Regions from separate parts of the Homo sapiens genome. Here regions 2 and 3 are each linked to region 1. Evidence: fine-mapped QTL for protein levels in blood plasma. A gene starts in region 1. Each other region holds a variant in brackets. All regions are shown on one strand. Distances are from middle to middle.

Region 1 (4,352 bases):
TGAGCCAAGATTGCGCCACTGCACTCCAGCCTGGCTCAAAAAAAAAAAAAAAAAAAAAAAGAAAAAAGAAAAGAAAAGAACAACAACAACAAAAATCCACATAGCATAAAATTTAGCATCCTAGTCATTTAAACTCTACAGTACTGTAATGTTAGGTATATTCACATGTTGCACAATGGATCTCTAGAACATTTTCATCCTGTAAAAACTGAAACCCTATACCCATTGAACACCAACTCCCTATTTCCCCTTCCCCCTAGCTCCTGGCAACCACCATATCACTGATTTTTTTAAAGAGGGCTGTGGGCACAAACATTCATTATATTGTTCTTTGAATGACTAATGCGTTTCCTAATAAATGACAAACACAAAGTAAAAAATTAGTCCATTTTTTAAAAAGACATCATCTGAGACAGCCTGAGGAAGACAAAATCATAGAAGAAGACATGAAAGTTGAGAAATTTGAACAGGAAACAATACTTAAATATTCAATTCTCCTCTCCTCTTCTTTAGGACCCCCTTCATGCTCTCCTCACTGGAAAGTGGAGGAGGGGGACTTCAAGGCCAGAGAGAAATTATTTTCCCATGTCTTGGGCAATGTTCCTGGTGGGTGTGAGGGACGGGTATGAACAAAAATCAGAGCCAGGTGAATACAAGGTCATGTCACTGAAAAGGGGGTGTGCAGAAAGATTCTAGAGGGACACTGTCTTCAGCCAGAACCACACAGGGCAAGAGGGCCTGGGGCTTTAGAGTGTAAGAGGCCAACAAGAGGCTCCTGTGATGTGTAGATATTTATCCATATTCTTATCAACATGCTGAGTGCAGAAACCATTTCCCAAGCCCTTTGATTTGCAGCAAAGCCTGGAGCCTTCCCTGGGACATGAAGCACTATCTGGAGACAGAGCCACAGCCTTTGCCCCTCAAATGCCAGGCTGGTCCACAATCCCATGCCTCTACTCATGCTCTTCCCTATACAATACCCTCTCTGGCTAATAAACTCCTATTCATTCTTCAAAACCCAGACCAAATTTCACCTCCTCTGTGAAGTTTACCAGTTTTCTCCAGGAAAAGTTAGATCGTTCCTTTTTCTGTCCTCCCACAGTATTTCATCCATATCTCATATTACTGTCTTCACATCTGTTTCCCCTATCAGACCATGAACTCCTCAAGGGCTCCATCTTATTTATTTGTTTTCCCAGGACCTAAGCATGTCAATACATAATAGGTGTTGGGTGCATGCTGAATGAATAAAACTCCTAGAGCAGAGAAATTCAGCATCTGGAGGTTGCAGAGGGAGAGGGCAGAGATAGTCCCTCGGCAAGCCTCTCACACTGTAATGTGCCTACTATCACCTAGGGATTTTGGTAAATGCAGATTCTGACTCAGAAGGTCATAGAAGGGGCCTGAAAGTCTGCATTTCCAGTAAGCTCCAGGTGATGATGATGTTGCTGGTCTGCAGACCACACTCTGAGTACCAAGGCCTTCCAGACTTTGGTTCTCAATGTCGCTGAGCAGTCACCAAGGAGATAGGGGGAAGGCCTGAGAAGGGATGAAGTCAGTGAGATTCTCTTCCATGATTGTAAAGAGCCCTGTGGAGGGTGGTGGAGTGAGCCAATAGGAAAGCCATAATTCTTGCCCCATCACCTGCAGGAACACTCTCTTGATCTTTTGAGTGACTCCAAGATCAGGATGAGAATGAAGAGATAGCTCTTATCAAGCCCTCTAGAGCGGAAATAATCTACTTCAACTGAAAGATTTGAGGCACACAATTGCATAAAAAACAAATATAATTTAACCACCCCATTCCCCCAAAATGAAGCCTGCCTACTACCGCTGCATACAGGTCACACACCTGCTTGAGAGCCAGGTGTCCACAGGGCACTTAAGACAGCTAGGACTAGACATTGAGGGCAAACTAGATGGTCGGATCTGCTGCAGATGGCAGGCATGAGATGCTGGAAATGAGATGAAGACCTGACAGCTCCGGCTTAGGGAACCCCTTAAAACACTGCAAAATCTCCACTATAGTGGAGAGGCCAGATTTCATCACACTGTCTCAAGAACAGCACAGGGAGCACCATTCTGTCACTGTTTTCCCCCAAATTCCTGTGTGACTCTGGACACATTAAATTGCTTAAGTCTCAGTTCCTAAACAAGGTGGATAAGAGAGGTCTATGGTACCTTCCAGCCCTAAGAGTTTATGATTCTCTGACATAGTTTTCAGACACAGAAAAGCCTTTTTCCCCCACAGTGGTGGGGGGAGGCTTAATTACATTCTCTCTTATACCAAACAAGAGGAGTGTGCCATGGGGTGGCTAAAGCTGGCACCAGAAAGTGCCTGATAGAGACAAGTCTAAATCCAGTGTTAAGCTTTCTGAGAAGACGTTAGGAAATTTCATCATCAACTTTGCAGAAACCAGGAAAGATGAAAGTTGACGAGTCTTACCTGCCCAGTGCCTTGTCTTTTCACGGCAGCCAGGGAGTTGCTCTGCTTGGAGGAGCTGGTCTTTTATACCTTCCAGCAAGAATTCACTTCTGGGAAAGGCCCAGAAGGAAAGATTTTGATGTGGCTTGGAGGAGACGCTGAGGCTTAGCAGGAAAGACTGTGTGACTCCGGGCAGATACACCAGGAAACTGCAGAATGGCAGGGATTGGTTGATGCAATAGCACTGACTGTGGGTGAAGCAACTCCTCTTTCCATTTTCTAGCTTAAATGCATGATCCTGATCTAGTTCCGGAAGGCAAAAACTGCATGCCCTGAGCACATTTGTCCCTTTTAAGCTCCTAATGGGATCCGAATAGCTCTTAGAATTATGAACAATTATTAGGTTGGTGCAAAAGTATTGCAAAAACCGCAATTACTTTTGCACCTAGCTAAATGGTTCTCCTCCCCATTCATATATTCACTGCCCTTTGATCCCTCCCTTACATTCCACCCAATTTACTGTGGAATCCAGTGGATTCATCTTTTGGATTTAAAGTGATCAATAAACATTAATTTTTTTGGTCAAAATTTCAAAATACTTTTGGCCACCAAAGGGTGAGAAGAGCCCTAAGCTTTCATAGTGGGTTGCAGTCCCTGCCTCTGCCATTGTATGGCTCTAGGCAAGTCACTTCACCTTCTGGTGTCTCAAATTTTCTAGTATTGAAATCAATGGTTGGTTTTGGTGATTATTATGATTCTATGACTTCATGCCTTCTATAGGGTGACCCATTTAAAAAACTCCAGAATCTGGGAGGCCAAGGTGGGTGGATCACTTGAGGTCAGGAGTTGGAGACCAGCCCAGCCAACATGGTGAAACCCTGTCTCTACTAAAAACACAAAAATTAACCAGGCATGGAGGTGCATACCTGTAATCCCAGCTACCTGGGAGGCTGAGGTGGGAGAATCACTTGAACCTGGGAGGCAGGGGTTGCAGTGAGCCAAGATCATGCCATTGCACTCCAGCCTGGGTGACAGGACGAGACTCTGTCTCAACAAAACGAAACAAAACAAAACCACCACTATCGTATAAATTATTGACCTAAAGCTCAAGCATAATGTTACATACCTTTCCTACCTCAATGACTTTGGAAATTCAAGTTCATTAGATTCATACAAGAAGGAAAAAGGAAGATTCCGAGAAAACAAAATTTCATGAAAGTATATTTTACAGACAGACAATTTAAAACATAATAAGCCTCTTTATGAAATTATACTTTGAGTTGAAAATACTCTGGGAGCAACTGTCAGAAATTTATCAACCCCAAAACAGACTTCTTGGTTCGCCTTCAAAAAAGTGATATTTCCTTTCTCTAGATGGTGGAATATATCTAAAAACTACTTCTCTCGTGATGAATCCAGGCAAATAAGCTGGGCATCTCGGAAGAAGGCAGCTGTCCAGGAGAGGTGAATGAGACATCAGGCTCTTCTTGTTTTCTTTGAAACACACTTCAGCTCCTTAGCCAAGCATTGTTTTTCTGTGTCTGACCATTCCCTGAACTTTGGCACATGTTTCTCAAGGTTCTTGCCTCTGAGTTTTATGCTTAATATGTTCAGGAAGCTGTGTTGTTAGGCAGATCTTGACCTAGTTGGTTCTGAATAATCTGAAGATGGAACTTCCTTTTAGAAGACCCTATGGGATAACATTGCTTCCTATGTACAAAATATAGTGACTTATTGGTCAGGGTAACAGCAAAATACAGGTCTGATTATTCCCGGGTTTTATCATGTTATGACATGATATGATATGTCCTAGCTTTGGTCTTTCTGTAATGGGTCAAATAGGATGGGGCAGTGTCAGCTCCAGCCCAGTAAGGACCTTCCTTGATATTGGCCGTGAAGCACACCTGGAGGCAGTCAATCTGACAGT
Region 2 (4,000 bases), 13 kb before region 1:
TTTAGGAGAGTCTATCTATCTATCTATCTATCTATCTATCTATCTATCTATATATCTATATATCTATATATCTATCATCATCTATCTATCTATCTGGACAGTCTTGCTCTGTTGCCCAGGCTGGAGTGCAATGGCATTATCTTGGCTAACTGAAGCCTCAACCTCGTGGGCTCAAGTGATCCTCCTGTTTCAGCCTCCAGAGTAGCTGGGACTACAGGCATGTGCCACCATGTGTTGCTAGTTTTTAAATTTTTTGTAGAGACAGGGGTCTTGCTATGTTGCCCAGGCTGTTCTCGAACTTGTGGCCTCAAGCAATCCTCCCACCTAAGCCTCCCAAAGTGTTGGGATTACAGGCATGAGCCACTGCACCAGGCCAGGAAATCTATTTAAAATTGTAAATTCTTGGTGTGAGTGCATATTTTTATGAAAAACAAGAAAGAACTCGGTTTTGTGTCTGGATTGCTGTGGGATATATGTGAACACAAAATCCAAAAGATCTATAAAGGTATCTTGGCCTAAGAGCTGGCCTTCTGCAATGTCAGGGTGGCCAGGGGGTTTGTCCAAAGAGAGAGGATGTTTGAGGGTGGGATGGCCTCTAGAAGCCGGAGACAGAGAGGACCAGGAGGGCACCTGGAATGAACAGAATTAGCAGGGCTTTGGTCGTGCACAGGCTGAATGGAATGGGGATTTTGTCCCCAGGTTATAAAAAGCTTTAAAAATATACATTCCTCTTCATCTAGAACTTCCTCTTCTGGGAAATTAGCTTAATAAATGTATTAAAAATGAGAACAAAGATTTATCAATGAAGATGTTCATTACCTAAACAACAGCAACAAAACACAGGAAAACTTGAAATAACTAAATTCCCCCAAGTAGGATTGAGAAAATAAATGATGGTAATATGTGTCATGAAATACCAGGCAGCCATTAAAAATCACGTCATAGAAGAACAGTTAATGGCATGGAGTAAATTAAGTGAAGACATCAGGTTTTGGAGCATTATTTATAGTAAGACCCGATTATGTAAAACAATGTAGAACTGTATCTGTGATAGAAAAAATACTGGAAAATAAGCATGAAAATGTTAACGATGATTATTGGTGGGTAGTGGGATTGTGTGAATTTTCTTTTTCTTTTCTTTTCTTTCTTTCTTTCTTTTTTTTTTTTTTTTTTTTTTTTTTGAGATGGAGTCTTGCTTTGTTGCCCAGGCTGGAGTGCAGTGGCGTGATCTCGGCTCACTGCAACCTCCGCCTCCTGGGTTCAGGTGATTCTTCTACCTCAGCCTCCAGAGTAGCTGGGACTACAGGGGTGTGCCACCACGCCCGGCTAATTTTTTGTGTTTTTAGAAGAGACGGGGTTTCACCATGTTAGCCAGGATGGTCTCGATCTCGTGACCTCATGATCTGCCTGCCTCGGCCTCCCAAAGTGCTGGGATTACAGGCGTGAGCCACCAAGCCTGGCACTTTCTTTTTATTTTCTTTGTTACTTTTCTGGACTTCCTGATTTTGTTTTACAGTGAACATATGTTCTGGAATTCTTTATTCATCTGGGCCCTTCTGCTAGTCCTGGACCACTGCTAGGGACAGCAATGGCTCAGTGTGCATTTTTCCAGAAAGATGACAAGAAGGGGGCAGTGGTAAAGCTTCCCTGGATAATCCCCTTGTCCTTGGGCCCTTCTGTTCCCAGGCTAGACTCACCTGCCAGGAAGCAGGGCACACGGGCAGTGGTGTTGATGAACTCACAGGGGCTTGGCTTCTTGCTGTCATAGGGCAGGTAGGGTAGTCCATGG[T/ATGGT]CTGAGACCTCCTGGTTGACAGCCATGAGGCCCAGGGGGCTGCTGAGGTTGCGGAGGCGGCTGGCCAGGCTTGGCTCGGAGCTGTACACAAAGCTGGCATCCAGGAAGGAGGTCAGAGCGTTGATCTGCTCTCGGGCCAGGGACTTGTAGGGTGGAGTGGGGCAGACGAACCCAGCTCGGAAGAAAGGCATGCATTTCCCTTGAGTCCCCGCCTTGGGGTCATTGGGTGGGAACTGCAGAGAGAGTGGGCATAAGTGACTGGGCAGGGGTGGAACAGCTGGGTCCTGGCAACCTCTCCCCAGGGCAAGTCTGGATGCAAAGATGCTGATGGCACCCTCCTAGGACCCTGGTACCAGACACTGACCCCAGACACTTCTTGCTGACATTACACACCCTGGGCTCATAATATCCTGAAGTTCATTACATCCTGTTGTGTGAAAGAACTGAGGGTAATCATTCAGTCCTCACAGTGAGGGCTCCAAATTTCTGGTGAGGAGGGAGTATTGAGCTCCCTGGACAGGAAAGCAGGACACGAGGTGGGAACAGGTTTGTTAATAATTACTACTAACAACAGCTGCCATGTATTTATTTTGGACTTACCATGTGCCAGGAATTATGCATACTTTAACTCATCTCAGTCCTCAAAAAAACCCTGTAAGGTGGACAATTCAGTTCCATTTTATAGATGAGAAAACTGGGGCTCAGAAAAGTTAAGTAAGTTGCCTAAGAACTTATACACTGGAAGGGAAAGATGTAGGATTCAGATCATTGGCTTCATTCCACAGTTTATGCTCTTTATACCACAGCACATAGCCTCGATTTATTCTTTGAGTGAAGAAATGACTCTCCAACTGTAATACCCATGAATAATAAGAAAAGATGCATTGCTGCAAGCTCCTCTCCCTTCCGGATGGAAATCCCTACAAATCCCTGCTGCTCACTCGGATTCATCCAGGTTTCAAGTCCTTCTGAGTGGAGTTGAAGTCATCCTCCACGATGATGTACAGCAGTATAAACTTTATCATGTATAAAATGAATCTCTGTTGATCTTGGTAAAAATGTAGAATCTATTTCCTAACATCTTGGGTGAGACTTGAGATTTTGCATTTTTTTTTTCTTTTTCTTTTTTCTTTTTTGAGTTGGAATCTTGCTCTGTTGCCCAGGCTGGAGTGCAGTGGCGTGATCTCGGCTCACTGCAACCTCCGCCTCCCAGGTTCAAGCGGTTCTCCTGCCTCAACCTCCTGAGTAGCTGGGACCACATGCATGTGCCACCTCGCCAGGCTAATTTTTGTATTTTTAGTAGAGACGGGGTTTCACCATGTTGGCCAGGCTGGTCTCAAACTCTTGACCTCAGGTGATCTGTCCACCTCAGCCTCCCCAAGTGCTGGGATTATAGGCATGAGCCGCCTCGCCCAACTGAGATTTTACATTTCTAATAAGCAGGTTTTACCAATGCTGCTGGGTCGGGAATGTAGACAACCTTCTCCAGTGTTCCCATTCTGCTATCAGTAGTTTACTTGTCCAATTCCCACACTGGCCCTTTGTTCTTGAGAGCAGGAGCGGTGTCCTGTTCACTTTGGAATCCTCAGCGCTTAGTGCACTGCCTGGTATGGGGTGGTCAATGTCTATTTACTGAATAAACGGATGAGTGAACGAATGGACACGTGAGGCATGGGAAACTACCAAATCAGTATCCCAGATCTATCCAGAGATCCTAGCTGATGAGCTGGGAATGTCTGCTACATCAGGGTGGGCAAGGGGCTAGTCAGAGATGCCTAGCTGCAGGGCCGTACCATGATGGGGAAGCAGTTGTCTCCCTGGATACAGTACTCATCACACTGGGCTTTGGAGTACTCGCTACTCCCCAGCTCGGTGTCAGGGGCAAAGTCCAGGTCATGATCCACAATCTGACCCCACTGCATGAAGAGCAGGGACCTGTTTTGGTCCAGAACACCCTCCTCATTCAGATAGCCAACAATCTTGTTAGATACCTCCCGGGCCTACAGATGGAGAGAGAAGGGGAGGGCAGATTAGAGGAAAAAGTGCTTTGAGGATTCAGATGCAACTACAGCTTATTAACTACCTACCATGTTACAAGTGCACTTAATCCCTACAAGGAGTTTGTGAGGTGGGTGGCATTAGCCTATTCTGTAGAGGGGGAGATTGAATCCTGGACAGGTGAAGTCAGTTCTCCAAGGTCCTGCCGCTACA
Region 3 (4,352 bases), 350 kb before region 1:
ATTTCTATACATTTAGCAAGAATGGCTTTGAAAATAGTGTGACAGTGAAGAGAGTGGGAATTCTCTCATCAAAGCCCTGAAACATGTTTATTGCTTTTTAAGCTGCCGACTCTTTGTGACCCTGGAAAACAGAACACAGATGAACAATTTCAGTGCACTCAAGGAGCCAAGGACAGTTTGGAAACAAGCAGGATCCAAAATACCAGTAGGTGGGTCAACATTTTGTTGTTCTTAATGTCACTATGCCTTTAGACTTCTGTGTGTCTCTGAGGCCACTCAGTGATCTTCTTATGTCTAGTGACAAAAGGACTGTGAGTGATGAAGAAGAGTAATGCAGATTGGCAGGTTCTCCCACTGAGTGAGTAGGAAGAGCAGTGTCATGGGAACTTGAGGAGACATCAAAGCCCAAGTGGCTGGCAGGTTAATCAGACAGAACTCATCAGTTGTTAGAAGCAAAGCATCTTGCCTTTCCGCAACTGCCCAGATAGTTTTTCTTATAAAAACAAACACCAGGTATTCCATTTACCAGTGCTCCAGAAACTAAACTAATTGGAAACCAGGGTTGTTTAAAGTAAGTGTCACTGACTCCAGAGAGAGTTGAACAACATCACTATGACCCTGGGGTGTGTGATTTCCAGCCAGACGAATGAAATGAATTGACTTTAGCACAAATTACTGGAAGAAGAGTGTGTGTGTGTTTGTATATATGTTCATACACATATATGTATATATAATATATTCATACACATATACGTATATATAATATATTCATACATATATGTATATGTATTCATGCACACATAGGTATATATGTATTCATGCATATATATGCATATACACATATATTCGTGCATGTGTATACATACATACATATATTCATACATACACACACACATGCTGAGTTTTAAAGAACTTAAGTAAAACAGGCCGAGTGTGGTGGGTCACGCCTGTAATCCTAGCACTTTGGGAGGCCAAGGTGGGCGGATCACTTGAGGTCAGGAGTTCGAGAGCAGCCTGGCCAACATGGTGAAACCCCGTCTCTACTAAAAATACATAAATTAGCCGGGCGTGGTGGCGGGCACCTGTAATCCCAGCTACTTGGGAGGTGGAAGCTCAATAATAGCTTGAACAGCTGGGTGCGGTGGCTCACACCTGTAATCCCAGCGCTTTGGGAGGCCAAGGCAGGCAGATCACGAGGTCAGGAGATCGAGACCATCCTGGCTAACATGGTGACACCCCGTCTCTACTAAAAATACAAAAAATTAGCCGGGCGTGGTGGCGGGCGCCTATAGTCCCAGCTACTCGGGAGGCTGAGGCAGGAAAATGGCGTGAACCCAGGAAGCAGAGCTTGCAGTGAGAGGAGATCGCGCCACTGCAGTCCAGCCTGGGCGATAGAGCAAGACTCCGTCTCAAAAAAAAAAAAAAAGAATCACTCGAACCCAGGAGGCAGAAGTTGCAGTGAGCTGAGATGGCACCACTGCACTCCAGCCTTGGCAACAGAGTGAGATTCTGACTCAAAAAAAAAAATTAAATAAATAAAGAACGAACTTAAGTAAAACAAATTTATTTGGTGTGTGGGAATTTTTTTTCAATTTTTAAAAAATTGATTAAAATTTTTTTTGGTTTAAATTTAGTTAGGTATTATAAGTAAGGGAATTACTAAAAGGGCAATAATTTTTTTTTCTTTCTTTTTTTTTTTTGAGATGGAGTTTCACTCTTGTTGCCCAGGCTAGATAGAGTGCAGTGGCGTGATCTCGACTCACTGCAAACTCCACCTCCTGGGTTCAAGCGATCCTCCTGTCTCAGCCTCCTGAGTAGCTGGGATTACAGGTGCCCACCACCATGCCCAGCTAATTTTTTATATTTTTAGTAGAGATGGGGTTTCACCATGTTGGCCAGGCTGGTCTTGAACTCCTGACCTCAGGTCATCCACCCACCTCAGCCTCCCAAAGTACTGGGATTATAGGTGTAAGTCACCACTCCCAGCCAATATATGTTTTTCACGACAGACTAGTATATCAGTTTTAGTTTTTTTTTGTTTTTTTTTTTTCCTGTGGATAAATGGTAGCACTAATCCACAACTTTGAAGTCAGTTCTCCTGGAAAAAAAA[A/C]CTTTTTATTCCTCGCCCTAGTGGTGATTGAGACTAATGACGAGTTTGCTGTTTGTTTCATGTTGGCAAATATGTATGTAAGGGAAAATGAAGGAAAATGTCCAGACATTTTATTTATTTATTTTTTATATTTTTGAAATGGAGTTTCGCCCTTGTTCCCCAGGCTGGAGTGCAATGGCGCGATATTGGCTCACTGCAACCTCCACCTCCCAGGTTCAAGCGATTCTCCTGCCTCATCCTCCCAAGTAGCTGGGATTACAGACATGCACCACCAGGCCTGGTTAATTTTGTATTTTTTAGTAGAGATGGAGTTTCTCCATGTTGGTCAGGCTGGTCTCAAACTCCTGACCTCAGGTGATCCACCCACCTTGGCCTCCCAAAGTGTTGGGATTACAGGCGTGAGCCACCGCGCCCAGCCAGACATTTTAGATCAGTGGATTTTATTCCTATGAAGGGAATAATGAAGAACTACCTAGCTGGCATCAGAGTGTTTGGCACTCACACCACTGATAGAAGCAAATGGGATGACATAGCCATTAGATGACAAAGAAAAACCCATAGTTGTTGTGGCCTCCCCTGCTCGGCACCCTCTTCCCTCAGAAGTACAAAGAACAGACCAAAAAAAAGTTTGACATTTTTCCACCTGTTCCTCTAGTCTTTTTGTGTGCTTAAAAAAAAAGTGACAATTACGATATGTGTAAGCAATTTTATGTCATGATTTTCACTTTACATTAGAATGTAAACATTACTCTATGTTATTAAAAAAAAAAAACCCTGTAAACTTATTTTGAAATTGTTGGGCTGGGCAAGGTGGCTCCCACCTGTAATCCCAGCACTTTCGGAAGCCAAGACAGGCAGATCACTTGAGCCCAGGAATTGGAGACTACCCTGGGAAACATGGCAAAACACCATCTCTACAAAAAATTAGCCAGGCATGGTGGTGTGCGGCTGTAGACCCACACCCTCTCCTACTTGGGAGGCTGAGGTGGGAGGATCACCTGATCCTGGGGAGGTCAAGGCTGCAGTGCCATGATTATGCCACTGCATTCCAGTTTGGGCGACAGAATAAGACCCTGTCTCAAACAACAACAACAACAACAACAACAACAACAACAACAAAAATAGTTGGATTTCACCTATTGTTGAATTTTAGGTTGCTTCATTCTTTATTCTGTTATGAATAGGGACACAGTTACTTGTAAATAATGCTTTGTTTTTGCATTTTGGATTATTTCCTCAGGATGGATTCTCAGAAGCAGAATTACTTGGTCAAAGGGTTTGAAGATTTTAAGGATTCTTTTCCCCTCCTTTTTAAGACAGGGTCTCGCTCTGTCGCCCAGGCTTCCTTGCAGTGGCGCAATCTCAGTTCATGGTTTTTTTTTTTTTTTTTTTTTGACACAGAGTCTTGCTATGTCGCCAGGCTGGAGTGCAGTGGCGCAAACTCGGCTCACTGCAACCTCCGCCTCCTGGGTTCAAGCGATTCTCCTGTCTCAGACTCCTGAGTAGCTGGGATTACAGGCGTGCACCACCACACCCGGCTAATTTTTGTATTTTTAGTAGAGACAAGATTTCACCATGTTGTCCAGGATGGTCTCCATCTCTTGACTTTGTGATCTGCCCGCCATGGCCTCCCAAAGTGCTGGGATTACAGGCGTGAGCCACCACGCCTGGCCAATCTCAGTTCACTTTATGGGGCCAATGTGTGAGGGTCGCTTGAAGTCTGGGAGTTTGAGACCACGCTGGGCAACAAACATTGTGTGACTTCATCCCTACCAAAAATACAAAAACTAGCTGGCTGTGGTGGCAGGTGCCTGTGGTCCCAGCTACTTGGGAGGCTGAGGTGGGAGGATCGCTGGAGCCTGGGAAGTTGAGCCTGCAGTAATCTGTGATTGTGCCACTGTACTCCAGCCTAGTGACAGAGTCAGACCCTATCTCCAAAAGAATTTTATTTTTTTAAAAAGGAAGCTGATCAGATCTACCCTCTCTGATTCAGCAGTCTCTCTGCTTTCTGGTCCAGCTGGAGAGTAGGGCATTCTAGATAACAGGGAATTCATATCTGTGCCACAGAGCACACACTTTTTTTTTTTTTTTTTTTTGAGACGGAGTCTCGCACTGTTGCCCAAGCTGGAGCGCAGTGGATCTTGGCTCACTGCAACCTCTGCCTCCCGGGTTCAAGAGATTCTCCTGCCTCAGCCTCCCAAGTAGCTGGGATTACAGGCGCCCGCCACCATGCCCAGCTAAT

Direction of the effects. Alleles are on the strand shown, and positions count from the first base shown. The strength of an association depends on the size of the effect and on how common the allele is.
For the plasma level of the protein whose gene starts at base 2,602 in region 1, allele ATGGT in region 2 goes with a lower level than allele T (moderate association).
For the plasma level of the protein whose gene starts at base 2,602 in region 1, allele C in region 3 goes with a lower level than allele A (moderate association).

What was found. PIP is the chance, under the fine-mapping model, that this variant and not a neighbour inherited with it causes the effect. Protein levels are from antibody-based Olink assays in UK Biobank. Linkage for the fine-mapping came from a reference panel and not from the study's own genotypes, which makes the PIPs less certain.
Region 2: its variant is fine-mapped to the plasma level of the LPO protein (UK Biobank, PIP above 0.99). The variant lies in the coding sequence of LPO. If it changes the protein, the assay may bind it differently, which can mimic a change of level.
Region 3: its variant is fine-mapped to the plasma level of the LPO protein (UK Biobank, PIP 0.97).

The regions. Positions count from the first base shown.
Region 1 is chr17:58,236,834-58,241,185 of GRCh38, reverse strand. LPO (lactoperoxidase) reads right to left here and starts at 2,602. Exons shown (of 13, transcript NM_006151.3): 1 at 2,447-2,602.
Region 2 is chr17:58,250,204-58,254,203 of GRCh38, reverse strand. It overlaps LPO (lactoperoxidase), which reads right to left. Exons shown (of 13, transcript NM_006151.3): 7 at 3,583-3,789; 8 at 1,698-2,022. Among named protein-coding and RNA genes, the nearest start is that of LPO, 14 kb to the right of the region's middle. The variant T/ATGGT (reference allele first, on the strand shown) is at 1,790.
Region 3 is chr17:58,589,412-58,593,763 of GRCh38, reverse strand. It overlaps TEX14 (testis expressed 14, intercellular bridge forming factor), which reads left to right. Exons shown (of 32, transcript NM_031272.5): 15 at 103-209. Among named protein-coding and RNA genes, the nearest start is that of SEPTIN4, 47 kb to the right of the region's middle. The variant A/C (reference allele first, on the strand shown) is at 2,111.